Linked DNA regions of Homo sapiens: region 1 is linked to region 2. The links come from fine-mapping of genetic effects on gene expression. Tissue or cell type: lung. Region 2 holds a variant in brackets; the other region holds the start of a gene. All regions are shown on one strand. Distances are from middle to middle.

Evidence for each region. PIP is the estimated chance that this variant, and not a neighbour inherited with it, causes the effect.
Region 1: MTREX starts here. The variant in region 2 is fine-mapped to the expression of MTREX in lung (TOPMed, PIP 0.95).

What each region holds. Positions count from the first base shown.
Region 1 is chr5:55,304,243-55,312,358 of GRCh38, forward strand. MTREX (Mtr4 exosome RNA helicase) reads left to right here and starts at 3,747. Exons shown (of 27, transcript NM_015360.5): 1 at 3,747-3,905. The coding sequence starts at 3,772. DHX29 (DExH-box helicase 29) reads right to left here and starts at 3,452. Exons shown (of 27, transcript NM_019030.4): 1 at 3,145-3,452. The coding sequence starts at 3,331. It overlaps LOC124900979 (a long non-coding RNA gene), which reads right to left. Exons shown (of 2, transcript XR_007058774.1): 2 at 3,907-4,195. RefSeq lists enhancers at 3,121-3,380, 3,521-4,000.
Region 2 is chr5:55,477,553-55,485,552 of GRCh38, forward strand. The region is part of intron 1 of PLPP1 (phospholipid phosphatase 1); the gene reads right to left. Among named protein-coding and RNA genes, the nearest start is that of MIR5687, 27 kb to the right of the region's middle. The variant T/A (reference allele first, on the strand shown) is at 4,443.

The sequences.
Region 1 (8,116 bases), 170 kb before region 2:
AGGAGACTCTTTACCCAGTCATCTGTGTAACTACTTTACCTGCCTCCTTTGCTTGCTCAAATGTCACTTTTTTTTTTTTTTTTTTTTTTGAGACCGAGTCTTGCTGTCACCCAGGCTGGAGTGCAGTGGCACAATCTCAGCTCACTGCAAGCTCCGCCTCCCGGGTTCACGCCATTCTCCTGCCTCAGCCTCTCCGAGTAGCTGGGACTACAGGCGCTCGCCACTATGCCCAGCTAATTTTTTATATTTTTAGTAGAGACGGGGTTTCACCGTGGTCTCAATCTCCTGACCTCGTGATCCGCCTGCCTCGGCCTCCCAAAGTGCTGGGATTACAAGCGTGAGCCACTGCGCCTAGCCACCTTCTTATATGATGCCTTCCTTCCCTGACCATCCTATTTAATACTGAACCTCTCCCCACCCTCCTCCCTATTCGGCCTCTTCAGAAATTCTTTCATGAGCAAATGAAATTAAAAAAAAAACAAGACTGGTATTACTTGTTGTGCAAGCCATTTGGTGATTCTGAACCTCTACGATAGAGGACAATTTTGACCAGCTGTGCCGTCAAATTGGAAAGATAAGGAGGGACGGAAGTAGAGTAGAACCATTACATCTACATTAGGAACTACACAGAGTTGAGCATTTTTCCACTTTTTTCTCCAAAATAGGTTTATTGTACGTTATACTATATATTAAAAGCACCCTAAAATAAACCCAAAAGTTATGTGCAAATTTAGTAGATAACCTCTAGTTTTTTTCTCTTGATTTCTTGGTCTTAATAATTCCTTTGAACTTTCCTTACCAGTTATCCAAGTAATTTTCTTCATGACAATATGCACAGCACTAGAGTAGATACTGGGGAAATGTTAACACATATCCATAAAACTGTTCCTACCTCCTGTAATTTTGTTGGATATATAAAACATATAATTCTTTACATATCATAAGGCAAGAACTAACTATCAAAAAGAATGATTTAAACAACTATGATACGTCAGTTGTGAATAGCAGGAAGAATTCAAAAGGAAGTTGTTATCTGAAATGGGTATTTTAAGGTTTTGGTAGATGATGTTAGGGACAGATTGCACTCCATGAAGAAAAACATGGCAAGAATAAATACGAGGAAGGAGAAAGCTAAGAGCTCCATTTGGAGAAATGAAAACACACCAGACTTGCTATAGTTGAATAGAGGAATTATTAAAAGGTTAGAAAGAGGGTTTTAGAAGCTAGCTAAATGATTTGGATTTTATTGCAAAGTCAGTGAGGATGCCATGGAAGAAAATAGGAAGTGTTACGACCAAAGCAGCATTTCTGGAAGATCAGTCTGATGTTGATATGCAAGACCAACTGGAGGAAGCAAAATGAGCACAGCTGTGGAGCCCTATTAAAAGACTTCGTTGCTACTCCAGGAATTCACAGGTACCAAGACTAGGATGTGAACTACACAAATGCAAAGTGAAATATGGAAAAACAGAAACAAGGAAGTCGAAGAAAAAGTTAGTTTGGGGAAAGAAGAGTGGTTTAGTACTAGCCCTGTTAAATTTGAGATGCTTGCAAAAAATAGGGTCAGAGAATCCAGCAAAATGTATAAATTGCCAACTTGAGCTTGGAAGAGAGGCCATCTACAAAGGAAAAGATAGAAGTAATGGAAATAGATGAACACTCCTAGAAGGGCTTTAGGAGTGAACTATACTGTCAAGGATTGACACCTTGAGAAAGGGTCACAGTTTGGGGCTGGAGGAAAGGGAATTCAAAGAATACAACAAATGACTATCGGTTCAAATTCAGAGGAATGTCAGTAAAAGACAAAGGAAAAGTAAAAAAGAGGCTGATCCACAGAATAAAACTGCCATAGTTGTCAGGGAGAAATTCTATGTATTTGTAATTACAAGTATGCTAACTCTGTAGCTAACACTACAATAAATCGCAGGGCAAAGAACTGTTTCCACCTTCTAGGTAAAGGTCTGGTACCTGCCTACTTTTTCAGTCTCATCTCATTTCATCCTTTGGCGATGCTTTATGTTCTGTGAATTCCTCAAGAGCCCCAAGCTCTTTCCTGACTCAAACTTTTTACACATGATGTTCATTACGCCCGCCTGGAATACTAATTTCTGCCATGCTTCACAGAGTTAACTCCTTTTTCATTCTCCTCATCTCAGCTTAACTGTTACATTTCCAGACACCATCCATGATACCTGCTCATCCCGAGAAAAATTAGATTACCCTGTTAAACTGTCTTCCCTGGCTTTTCTTTGTGGCACTTATCTATTATAAGGCTATAAATATGTCTGTGTGCGTTACCTATTAGTTAATACCTATCTCTGACATTAGACTGGCAAGCTCCATGAGGTGATGTCTCTTTTTGCTCATCACATTCCTCACATCTTATCAGACACATACTAAATATTTGCATATATACACATAAATGCTCAGCAAATATTTCTTGAATACTCCAATAAGTACAAGCAAACAACCCGAGAAGAACACAACAGAATGTAATTGTTCATCTTTTGAGCTCAACCGTAATATGTGGCCTGCTCATCTGCAGCAGGAATCGGCCATCTATAAGTTGAGTTGTCAAATCAATTTGTACAGTAAGCAAAACTGCATGGCGGCAGAAACGAGGGCAGACAATTTTACAATAGATTACACGTAACCAGTGTGTAACCAGTGTGTAAGTCCTGTAATTTTTATTAAGTATTGATTTTTCCAGAACGCATGGAGACACTAGATTGTTGCTGAAAATGATATGAAAAACTGACAGAAAATGGGGCTGGCTGGCACCAGGAGGTCAGGAACTCCACTCAGTACTCGTCTTTGCGTTAGCCTAGCTAGCTGAGATGGTGCTCAGGATGAATTCCTGCTGAAACAGGAGCTAATGCAATTATTTTGTTTTTAGAAGGGGGAGAAGTGTGAGTTAAAAGAGAAATGCCAGGCTGCAACAGGGCTACTGTCAGAATTTTGGAGGCCCAAAGAGCTTAGACTTTTTTAATCTAAAACAAGGCCACCCCATGGGGAGGTAGCAGCTCGAGTGTTGGGAAATAGAAATGTTGGGCCCGAAGCTCCTCCCGGGTTCTAAGGCCCTTTCCTCAGGACAAGCAGCAAGGTCTCAGGGCAGACAGCCAGGGGCTGGGGGACCTCTCGTACCTTGCTTGACACGGGGCTCCCTGGAGCCGGCAGCGGCAGCGGCAGCGGTGGCCGGCCTGGACACTGGCTTCTTGCTTTGGGCCTCCCCGGCAATTCCAGCCTCGGCAGATTTGGCTCTGGAAGCAGACACGGCGGCCCGGACCACCGCGGCCGCTGGAGCCTTGTGTTTCTTGTTCTTGCCGCCCATGTTGCAGCTGTGGCAGAAGATCCTTCGCGGCCCAGGCCCCGACGGTACCACTGCACAGCCGAGAGCTCTTCACATTCCCCGGCTCCGGGGCTGCCACCCTGCGCTTCGATCCGGGCTTCTCGGGCCGGGGCGACCGCTGCCTCGCAATTGGTCGAATTCAGCAGGCTCCGCCTCCTTGAGTCGCCAGCTGCCTGCCACACGCCAGGCGCCACGCGCCGCCCTCGCTCTTTATCCACTGAGCAGCTTATCCACTTTAGGTCGGAAAGGAAAGGAAAGAAAAGCAGGAAAAAAAAAAAAAGTCAGGGGAACATTTTTGTCGGCTGCGCGACTCGACTACTTTTGTCTCCTGCGGGCCACTGTTGAGCCTTCACGAGACGTCACTGTCTTCGGTCGCGGGGCATCGTGGGTAGGAGGGAGATTTGCTCTCACTGCTCCCAAAAATGGCGGACGCATTCGGAGATGAGCTGTTCAGCGTGTTCGAGGGCGACTCGACCACTGCGGCGGGAACCAAAAAAGACAAGGAAAAGGACAAGGGGAAATGGAAGGGGCCTCCAGGGTCTGCAGACAAGGCAGGGTAAGGAAGAAGTTCCAGTTGTTGCTTTTATTTTTTTTCTCGGTGGGGAGGAAGAAAACACTACTCTCTTAGGAAGAGCACGAGAAAGTGAAGTGTACATTGAGTGGCGTTGGAAGTGAAGGGGTTCCAGAAAAAAGTTGGAGAGGGTGGAAGAATGTTGGTTCGTGGAAGGGGGGTCTTGGCGTTTCCTGGTGTCTGCAGGCAGCGTGATCTTCTGCTTCAATTCCCTTACGTCGATGTTACTGATTCTGTCCCCATCTTCGCGGTTGTCTCCTGCATCAGCACAACACCTGGCACATAGTCGTTAATAAACAAAACGAATGATTAGTTGAGTAAAAGGTGAAAAGGTTTAGAAAAAATGATATGAATTGATTTGGAGGGGAAAGGGCAGATAATAACATGAGAAGGGAGAGACATTTAATCTCCAAGATGTAGTAGTTTTCTCTTCCGTAAAATGGAGATAATAGTGCCTACCACTGGTGGATATGAGGATTCAATGAGATACACGTGTAAAGTGCCTAACAGTGGTTAGCTAGCTATCACTAATAAATGGTAGCTATCGTGAGTTTATTGAGAAAAAATTTAAAAATTACTGGACCCTACCCATATGTTTAGACTGGTGCATACAGCCACCAGAAAGTGTACAGATCTGTTTATAGTAGAACAAGGAAAAGCTATTACTTGTATTAAATAAAGTAAGATGATTAATTAACAATCAACAAAATATACTCTTGGCATTGTGGGGCCAGATACCCAATAGATGCTTGAAATTAAATTAGACATGATTTTGCTCTCAAGGAATTTTCGGTGTAGGGAAAGAGAACAGGTACCCATTAAAGAGTTACAGTATAGGTGAGGAGGTCGTTAACTTAAAATGAATGATATATACAATTAAGTGTTATAAAAGTTCAAGAAAGGGAGATCCTATTTCTGACTTTCAGGAAGGCTTATTTATATACAAGAGAATATTCTGAGTTAAGGAAATTGTGTTGTTAATGGTGCCAAGTTTGTTTGTTTTTAGGAGCATAAATTGAGCAAGAGGAACTGTTTCATTTAGGGACTACAAGAGATAAGACTGGGAATATACATTGATTTGAGAACATGAGGGGCCTTGAATATCAAGCAGAGGAGTTTTGATTTCATTTTTAAAACCCTGTTGAACAAGGTGATTGGATAAGTAGAATGATAGTTTAGGAAAATTAATTTGGCAGTGGTTGGCAGAGTACTATAATAGTATAGGGAAAGAAGATAGACAGTGAGAAAGTAAATTAGGAAATTATGTTAGTTATCTGGTTGTAAAGATGAAAAGAACCTCAACTCAGGCAGTGGCAGAGGAATGGAAAGGTACGAACATGTTAAGGAAAAAATGGACAGGCCTTCATTAATTAAGGAAAACAAGGGAAAGGAAGTCAAAAGAGATGTTTAATTTGCATGTCAGGGTGAAAAAAACAGGGACGTTCAGAGGTTTTGATATAGTGATAACATTAATTTGGCTTGAGACAATGTGAAGGGATGCTAGTATGTCTGTAGGAAAATGTCCACTGGGTAGTTTTAATAGGGTTTTGGAGAGAGACCAGGACTGGAGGTATATATTTGAATATCATTTGAATTGGTCTCCTTGAGATAGAGATCTCTGTGGGGAAGTAAGTGACACAACACAGAACTTCTGGAGAGGGTACATAAGCCTAAATAAGAGATTAGAGGGATAAGAGAAAATTCTATCAGGAGTGCGAAATGAGTGGAACAAAGTGGAAAAATAGTCTACTCGCATTAAGTTGGATTGGGAGAGTTTGGGGAAGCTTTTCAGAGAAAATAAGAAAGGAGGACCAATTATTTTTATTTCTTTCAAGACAGGAAGTAATAGTTGCTAGAGTGTTTGAATGGGCAACTATGATATTATGAAGACAATACATGTATAATTTACCATGTTAGTATATACTTTACCTCAAATTTGCTAGGATAAAATGAGTTTTATTTGCAGGTTAGTTGGGGTAAGCTGTTTGACAGCCTTCCAAAGTGAAAAGAGGAAATAAAAATCTAATTTACATTTCATTATATTAGGAAATGAATATTAGAGAAAGGAAATAAGAAAACACAGGAGAACGTTAGTAGCTTAAAGGGTTTTGTTTACTACCAACACTTCTAGCAAGGTCTTCTAGATATTTTTAAGAAAAAAATCCTGGCCGGGCGTGGTGGCTCACGCCTCTAATCCCACTTTGGGAGGCGGAGGCTGGCAGATCACCTGAGGTCAAGAGTTCGAGACCAGCTTCACCAACATGGCGAAACCCCATCTCTACTAAAAATACAAAATTTAGCCATGCCTGGTGGCAGGCGCCTGTAATCCCAGCTAGTTGGGAGGCTGAGACAAGAGAATGGCTTGAACCTGGGAGGTGGAGGTTGCAGTGAGCCGAGACTGTGCCACTGCACTCCAGCCTGGGCGACAGAGCTTGACTCCATCTCAAAAAAAAAAAGAGAAAAAATCCTATTTGCCTGATTGCAGTGGCCATACTAACATTATGCATAGTGTGATTCTCATCTGATCTGTGTAACATAGGAGGGCAAATCATGGAACTTCAGAGGAACTTGCCCTTTATTTAGTATTCTAGATCAAGTGGATGCTTTTTAAAAAAATAGTTTCTTTACCTTTTAGAGATGGGGTCTCATTTTCTCACCCAGGCTGGAGTGCACTGGTGCTTAGCAGCTTATGGTAACCTCGAACTCCTGGCCTCAAGCATTCCTCCCACCTCAGCCTCCTGAATAGCTAGAAGTACAGGTACACACCACCATATCGGGCTAATTTTAAAAATGTTTTGTAGAGACGGGTGTCTCATAGTATGTTGCCCAGGCTGGTTTCAAACTCCTGGCCTCAAGCAGTCCTCCCACCTTGGCCTCTGAAAGTGTTGGGATTCCAGATGTGAGCCACTGTGCACAGCCAGTGAGTACTTTTTAAAAAAACTTTATGAGAATTGTCAAACTATGTATTTTATATATAAAACAGTATGAAGAGCTTCATGTACTCATAACTCAGCTTCACCAATATCAAGTCATGATCAGTCTATTCCTACATCTTTTTTTTTTAATCAAATGCAAGTTGTTTTTTCTCCCTAAATATTTCAGTATTTATGTCATCCAACAAAACTAACAATAATTCCTTAATATCGTTAAATACTGAATCTGCAGTGAGATGTCCCCAGTTGTCTCGGATGTTTTTTGATCATTGGTAGTTGAATCAGGATTCAAACAAAACCCTACACTGTTTTTATTGTTATGTCCCTTAAGTATTTTATGCTACAACAGCCTCCCTCTTTTTTCTTTCTGCCATTGATTTCTATTTTGGAGGGATGAGTGAAGGGAGAAACCAGGTCATCTATTCTGTGGAGTTTCCCACATCCTGGATTTGCTTTCTTAAACTGCCATTTAACTTGCTCCTGTATCCTCAAGTATCTTCTGTAAACTGTCCTCATCCCTAGAGCTGCATTTTGTGACATAATAGCCACTATCCTCACGTAGCTGTTGAGCACTTAAAATATGACTTGTCAGAATTGAGATGTTCGGTGAGTGTAAAATTCACACCAGAATTGGAAACGTTAATATGAAAATTGTAAAATATCTCCTTAATTTTAATTTGGTTATAATTGAAATGATAGTATTTTGCATATATTGGGTTCAATGAAAGATATTAAAATTTATTTCAACAGTTTCTTTTTACCTTTTTAAATGTGGTTATTAGAAAATTTTAAATTACATATGCAGCTTGTAGCTTGTATATGTATGTATATATACTGGACTGCTCTGATCTAGTGGCTTGATTAGATTCAGGTTCAGTTTACTTCCTATTTCATTACATCATAATGTCTGAATATTCTACTGTTCTAAGATTGACAAGTTGGCGAAAATAGTATCACCCTGATTCCTCATCAACCTTTCACATGACGGCTTTAGCACCTAGTGATAATTGCCCAGGTCCATTACTTCACTAGTACTTGCACAGTGGCGATTTTCTGTTTTTATCATTTCTCTCTGCATTTATTACCTGGAATCCACCTATTAAAAAAGGCATTGTCTCATCAGCTGTTTGTTTACCTTGAAATACAGTTCATAAAGAAAAGGCAGGATAAATGCTTGATCCTTTAACAATTTTTAAGGAAATGAGTTGTGCCCTAAGGAAGTTTCAATGGTGACCAACATGGGTGTATGATTATGTTTCGTTT
Region 2 (8,000 bases):
CCAGCTAATTTTTGTATTTTTAATAGAGAAGGGTTCTGCCATGTTGGCCAGGCTGGTCTCAAACTCCTGACCTCAAGTAATCCACCCAGCTCAGCCTCCCAAAGTGTTGAGATTACAGGCATGAGCCATAGTGCCCAGCCAAAGAACCTCTATAATCTAATTTAGTCTATACAAAATAATTGAAACTTTCACTGTCTACAAAGCATATTTCTGAATTGGTTGCATTTTCCAATAAACATTTCTTTCTTTTGGAATAGTATATTTAGTATAGAAATTAAATTCACAGGTGTGGTGGCATGCACCTGTAGTCCCGGCTACTTAGGAGGCTGAGGCAGGAGAATCACTTGAACCCAGGAGGTAGAGGTTGCAGTGAGCCGAGATTGTGCCATGGCACTCCAGCCTGGGTGACAGAGTGACACTCTGTCTTAAAAAAAAAAAAAGAAAGAAAGAAAGAAAGAAAATTCACATATAATAGGATTCGAGTCCAAAACTCACTAGGCTGTGTGTCCTTATTCTCAGAGAAAACATATAGGCCCTAATACACATGCCCAAATGTATTTAGAAATGCTATTAACATGTATGTCCATTAATATTAAGGGGTTTTGTTCCCCCCTGACCACAAAAACCATGTTAGAAACTATTCTTAGATTTAGAAAAAAAGTTTGTGGGTATTTTTCAGGATAGTAGGGGAACAAAATAAAACCCCATACAAAGGATAATAGCCCATTTTAAAAAATAAAAATATTCATGTGGGCAAATACTAAGTAAACCCACTGTGCAAGGAATTCCGCTAGGTGCTACCAGGAATACAAATTGAATAAGGCACAGTACATAATTATAGCAGAGAATAAACTGAGGTACAAAAAATTCTGAATGTTCGAAAGAAAAGGAGAGTTGGTGATATCTCTGAGTGTGATATTCGATAAGCCAGTAGTTATGAGAGACTCCATCTCAGCAGAAGGGGTCTAGGACAGAGACAGAGATTTGGGGATAGAAAGGGTCTCTAAAGTCACAGAGGTACAAAACACTGTACAGGATGTATACAGAGAGAAAAGAAGTGGAGGATGAGGCACAGAGCAACAGCAGAGGAAGATGAGGAGAGGAAGAAGATCCACTAAGGCAGACATGAGTGGGGTAAGGGCAGGTCAGGAGACAGTGACCTCACCGTGGCCACATCAGAAAGAGGGGGCATACAGGAGGTGGAGATTGGTCCACAGTGCCCAATATGGCATCCAATGGGATTTCAATTGCCAGTCTTAGTAAAAGAGGTTTTAATAAGAAGGGGTAATATCCTGACTTCAAGTTTTGGTAAGGAAATATAAGAAAATAAGCATGAATCTACCACAAATGTACACTATTCTGTTGAGAGAATCAAGAAAAGAGGCTGCCACCACCAAAGGCCTTAGAAATATTTTTAAATTGATAATAAATAATGGCCAATATTTGCCATTCCTCGTATAAGCCTATGAGATTTTTTTTTTTTTTTTTTGAGACAGAGTTTCACTGTTGCTGCCCAGGCTGGAGTGCAATGGTGCAATCTCGGCTCACTGCAACCTCCACCTTCCGGGTTCAAGCGATTCTCCTGCCTCAGCCTCCAGAGTAGCTGAGATTACAGGTGTGCACTACCATGCCCAGCTAGTTTTTTTGTATTATTAGTAGAGATGGGGTTTCACCATGTTGGCCAGGCTAGTCTCAAACCCCTGACCTCAGGTGATCCACCTGCCTTAGTCTCCCAAAGTGCTGGGATTATAGGCGTGAGCCAGTGTGCCTAGCCAAGATGTATTGAATCAATGTCATTACCCAGTGCCATTTCATTTTCACTAACTATCTAAACCTAAATACAGACCCCTGGAAGGGGATGAAGAAAAAGACCAAACCACAGGTTGTTCACTGACCCACCTAAGGCTCAAAAAGAACAGCTCTTTCAGATTCCTGTTCTGGAAATATGTGAATTTTAACAAAAACTGAGTAAGTCCAAGGTGGCAAACAACACTGAGCCATGTACAAGGAAGACTGGCTGAAGAAGAAGCTGAGAACAAAGCAGGTCTACAGAGGAAGAAGCAGTGACTAGCCTGGTCCCTGAACCGGGTGAAATGGGAAAGTAGCTCTGGCTCCCCACTGCCAAAAGGCCTCAGTGATCTTGCTGTTTGGGGTTATTAGAGCACCTTTTACCCTTTTCAACAAAGCCCAATTTTACTTAATCTAGTTAGAATTTCTACTCCTTGAAACCAAGAGAGACAAAGCAAAATCAACTATAATTTAACCATTCCTCCTACTTTGAGAGCATGTAGGTTATTTTTAATTTTTTGATTACCCTATGTGATGCTATAGTGAACATTTCTGAATACAAATTCTTGTTTGCATTTCTAGTTATTTCCTTAAGATATATATGTATGTGGAATTAAAAGATACAAACATTAAATCCTTGATAAACTATTCCAAAAGGGTTAGTGCACACCATCAACTTACTTCACCAGACACAGTGTACAAAAGTGTGGAGAAATGCAAACATTTAAATAGATACTTGATGTTAACTTTGACATTTACTGAAGATTAAGGCAAAAGTGAAAGAGTTCCCTTTCTTCGTTTATCAAATCAAGTCAAAACCCTTTTCCTTTCACCTGAAAGATTATATCTCTAAATCTCTTTCATCATTTCTCAAATGACTACCCTTGTCAAACACTGTTTCTTATTACTTGAGCTGGCAAAATTCATTTTCATGCTCCCTTTTTTTAAATTGAGGTATAATTTACATACCATAACATTCATCCATTCTAAGTATACATATAATTCAATGGTTTTGGTAAATTTATATAGCTATGCAACATCACCACAATCTAGTTTTAGAATATTTTCATTACCCCCCAAATTCCCTTGAGCCCATTTGCATTTAATCCCTGCTTCCACCAAGAAACCCAGGCAACCACTCATCTGCTATCTGTCTCTACACAAATTTGCCTTTTCTAGACATTTCATATAAATGGAATTATACAATATGTAGTATTTTATATGTGGCTTTTATCACTCAGCATAATGTTTTCGAGGTTCATCTGTGTTACAGCATGCATTTTGTTCCTTTTTATTAATGAATAGTATTCAGTTGTATGTATATACCACATTTGGTTTACCCACTCACCAGTTAATGGACATTTAGATTGCTTCCAGTTTTGTGCTATTATGATTAATCCTATGAACATTCATATACAAGTATTTTTGTAGATATGTTTTCATTTCTAATGGGTAGATACCTACAAGTGGGATTGCTAGGTCATATGGTAAGTTGATGCTTAACTTTTTAAGAAATTGCCAAACTGTTTTCCAAAGTTGTTGCACCCTTTTACATTCCCACATTCCGCTTTTTGATACATTCACTAGTCAGCCCATGACTCAGGTTCTCTGCATAGTAAACTCATACTCAGCTATAAATAAACACAACTTTCTATATTTTACCAGTGAATATTTATAATGGTTCAAGACAGAGTATGTGATATGGTAACTTACTGCTTCCACAAACCAAATACCACAAGAACACTTCGCCGTCCTTTATTAGAGACAGGAAAGGACAACATAAGAACATGGTCACACCACATCTTCTTTAACTTCCTCTTGCACAAATGCTCAGGATCTTGGAACCATAATACAAATACTAACAGTTTTATTTAGAAATATTGGTGCTGGGGTATCCAGCAAATCTGGGAAACTGGTTAAAAACTCTTTTACATGTGAAGGGAACTCTTCTAATATTAGCGAAAATTACAAAACTGCCTTCACAAAATAATGTTTTAAGGATCACCTATATAGCACCATGGATATATTGTTCCTTTTTGTTGCTGAACAGTATTCCATTGTACGAATCTAAAACATACCAGATGCCCAAGAGAGAGTGGCATGCAACTTTAGAGACCACAGTAGCAAATCACTAAGGGATACACTGCCTTGGGGATGACAGCAGCTGGCAACAGTCTGAGAAATCCTGACACACAGATGGCAGGTGCCTTGGGATTTACTGTGAGATCAAGTACTACCTCAATAGTTTGGAAGAAAAAAAGACCCCATAGGCAGACCAAAAGACCCACGGAATAGAAAGAACTGTGTCCACTTGTGAAATATTTCAGGAAATACATTCTTCTCTTAATGCCTGAACAAGTAGAGAAGAATGTGGATGTAGGCTAGAAGCCTGAAGAACCCAGACATATAGGTCAGACTGTCAAATAATGGAGCTATTACTATTTTGTTAATAAAATTGCTCATAAGAATTGAGAATCAGTACTTTCCACAATGCTGTGGATAGGAAATGCAGCTACACATGAGAATAAGTAAACAAGAAAATAAAACTTTTTTCCAACCTAAGAAACCAATCTCCACAGTACTATATTTCTACAATTCTAATAGACGTTTCCTCCATATTTTAAGATATCTCCAAAGAGGGAAATACATATATA[T/A]ATTTTTATTTTTATTTTTATAAGATCTATAAATATATATTTATTTATATAAGATACATCCAAAGGGGGAAATATAAATATAATTATATATTTATATTTAAATATTATATTTAAGTATTATATTTAAATTTTATATATTTATATTTCCCCCTTTGGAGATATACATATCTCATACATATATATATAGTATATAGTATATACACACACAGACACACACACACACACACACACATCTCCAGTCAGGATACGCATTCAATGTAAGTCTCCTTTGTCCCCCCTCACCCCCGAAAAACTGTTTTAATGAGGTATCTGATAGCAAGAGATGACTTGGAAATATGGTCAGTTTCCACAGAGTTAAGCTGAATTTTCATGGTAGTAGTCATTATCAAACATAAACAACAATCTTATTCTATTTAACATTTTGTAGTTTTTCATAAAATTTTCTACCTCAAGTTATTAAACACCTATTACATGCCACTAAGGTTACAATGGTGAGCAATACAGACCATTCCTACTCTAGTGAAGATTATTGTCTTACTGCCTATAGAGGTGAAAATAAGAAATGGCAGCACAGCGCCTATGTCCCCATGAAAACAAGGGAGAAATGACAAACAAATGTGAGCAATAGACTGTTTGGATACCAGCTTCCTGAACCAGTACAGGAAAAGGACAGCAAGAGAGATGTGCCTTGCCATAAAACCTAACCAACTCCAATCTCCTCTGCTATGCAGGGTAAAATTCTAAAGCCACTTCGCCATAAGAACACTTTACTTATATAGTACTTTACACTTTATAAAAATAAACTTATTAACCCACTCATTCTTTCTTCCTCAAGACTAGCAATTTCTTATTACCATTTAAGTAAGCTATTCAAAATAATAAAAATTATACCTCAGTTACCTGCTTTGTGGGCAGCTTCTCTAAAAAAATATTATTTTTTCAAACAATGTACCAAAAACAAAGAACTTCAGAAAATCCACATATATATAGTAAATAATCTCCCTCATCTTCCAAAACATTATCAAATCCCAAACTTTTCAAATGTGGTATTCCACAACAATTCAACCCAAAAAATGTATCCTGTGTTACTTCCCCCAGGTGTTAACAAAGGGAGTAAAAGTGATTTTTTAAAATTAACTTAGGAGCACTTAGACTACCAAAATTAATAAAAAATATTTCTTAATATTTCTTAAAAAGTCGTATTTTATCCTTTAAAATTGTGAATATTGTCTACTTAATATATTATTACACTAGTAATATTTATAGTGAAAATCTGATTAATCAATGCCAGAAAAATACAAGTGCTTAATGGTATACAAAAGCTAGACATTTTTCATTATGCTAACACACAAACAACATCAGTTGAAAAGGATAATTCAAAGTACATTATTCGAGGCTAGGTGCAGCGGCTCATGCCTGTAATCCCAGAACTTTGGGGAGGCTGAGGTGGGCAGATCACATGAGGTCAGGAGTTCAAGACCAGCCTGGCCAATGTAGTGAAACTCCGTCTCTATTAAAAATACAAAAATTAGCCAGGCATGGTGGCACATGCCTGTAATCCCAGCTACTCGGGAAGCTGAGGCACAAGAATTGCTTAAACCCAGGAGGCAGAGGTTGCAGTGAGCCAATATCATACCACTGCACTCTAGCCTGGGTGACAAAGGGAGACTGTCTCAAAAAAAAAAAAAAAAAACTACATTATTAGAAATTTTGGGTTGAGAGGCTATTTCCATTTCTGTATTTTTTACACTTAGAATGACTTTACAAAAATCTCCAACCAAAAACTATAACAATCCACATCCCAGAGTAAAGGAATTTTAATAGACCAATACTTGGTCTATTAAATGGAGATATAATGGGATTTTAAATAATGCATATTTCTGAATTAACCTAGAACAAAGGTTTTTTGCATATTAAGATATGTTTACATAGATGTTCTTCTACGATGAGCTACTAACTCACTATGCAATGCACGCTTAAGATAAAGTTCATCATTAATAGACAGTGACAAAGGCTCTTTAGTTGACTAAACATTAGTTAACCAGCTGTGAACCCTCTTCTCAACTAGGCCTCAACCTTGGCCTTTCATGTCAGCCTGTCCTTGCATGGTGTGCAAGGACAGGACATGCCCAGTCTTAGCAAAAGTCCTGCTAAGTCAGCTAAGCAAGAAGCCCCTCATCCTTGATATATGATTAAATTCCTCATCTCCCACCTTTGATACATAAATCTTTGGCCTGCCTTAACAAGAATCTCCTACCTTTGATGTCTCCTCTTCGTGATTTTCCATCCACTGATTCCCCTCACCCATAAATCCACCCCCTTCTCCTTGTTGTAGTTAGAGTTGAGCCCTCCGCTATTGCACTAGGTGCAATAGTCTTGAGTAAAGTTTTCCTTACCATTTTAACAAGTATCAGAATAATTTTTTTCAACAATAGAAACCCATATTAGATGGAAAGTTTCCAACTCCTAAGTAAACTTGGGTTGGCAGATTCAAAGGAAACAACGAAAACTTTTTTAAAAAATATTAAATTGTATCAAACCAACAACTGAGTGCTTTAAACACTTTCAAGGTACCAAGGCTATAGAGTAAAAAATACAGAGACTGGGGTCTATAACAAAGAATGTGGCCTTTGTCCCTGGGAGAGAGACTCGAAAACCTTACAATTTCCTGAGTAATAGGAGGGTCTTTGTTATTCTTGAGCCCCTTGGTTCACACCTGGGTTTATGCTAATGAATGACTCAGGATGGGGGCTGGTCACACTAACCATGTGATTAGGGGGACAGGGCTTTAAACCAGCTCAACCTCCAGGTAGGTGAGGGGAACTAGAGATCAAGTTCAATTGCTTGGCCAATGATTCAATCAATCATGACTACATAATAAAACTCTAATAAAAACAATGGACACTGAAGGTTGGAGGAGCTGCCTGGTTGGTGAACATATCAATGTGCCAGAAAAGTGACACATCTTGATGACATTGGGAGAGGACAGAAAAGTTCTACATTCAGGCTGCCCCCCACCCTGAGACTTTGACTGTGTATCTTAATTTGGCTCATTCTGATTCTTTATAATAAAACTATAATCATAAGTAAAATGATTTCCTGAGCTCTATGAGTTGTTTTAGCCTATTACTGAACCTGACAGAGTCACAGGAACCCCCAGAGTTGCAGCCTGGGGAACTTCAAATTTGCACCTGAAAACTACAGTGAAAGCAGTCTTATTGGGGACAATGACCTTAAATCCGTGGAGTCTCATGCTAACTCCAGGTGGTTAGTGTCAGAATTGAATTACAGCATGCTGCAACACAAAAGACAAACTTTCCACATTCAAGGAGTTACATGGGTATGTGTAGATCCACTCAGGTTAACGGACAACCAATCACTTCTAAAAAGCCTAGTCAGCTACGTAGACTGCTGAGCCACAGGACAAGGAGTGAAGTTTGATTTACTGTGAAATCTCAAAACATAGTTATTTTGATCTTTTTTTTTCTTTTGGCACTTTCTTAGAAACAGACAAAATCCACACACATAACAGTTAAGCTTCCACAATGCTATGTAAAA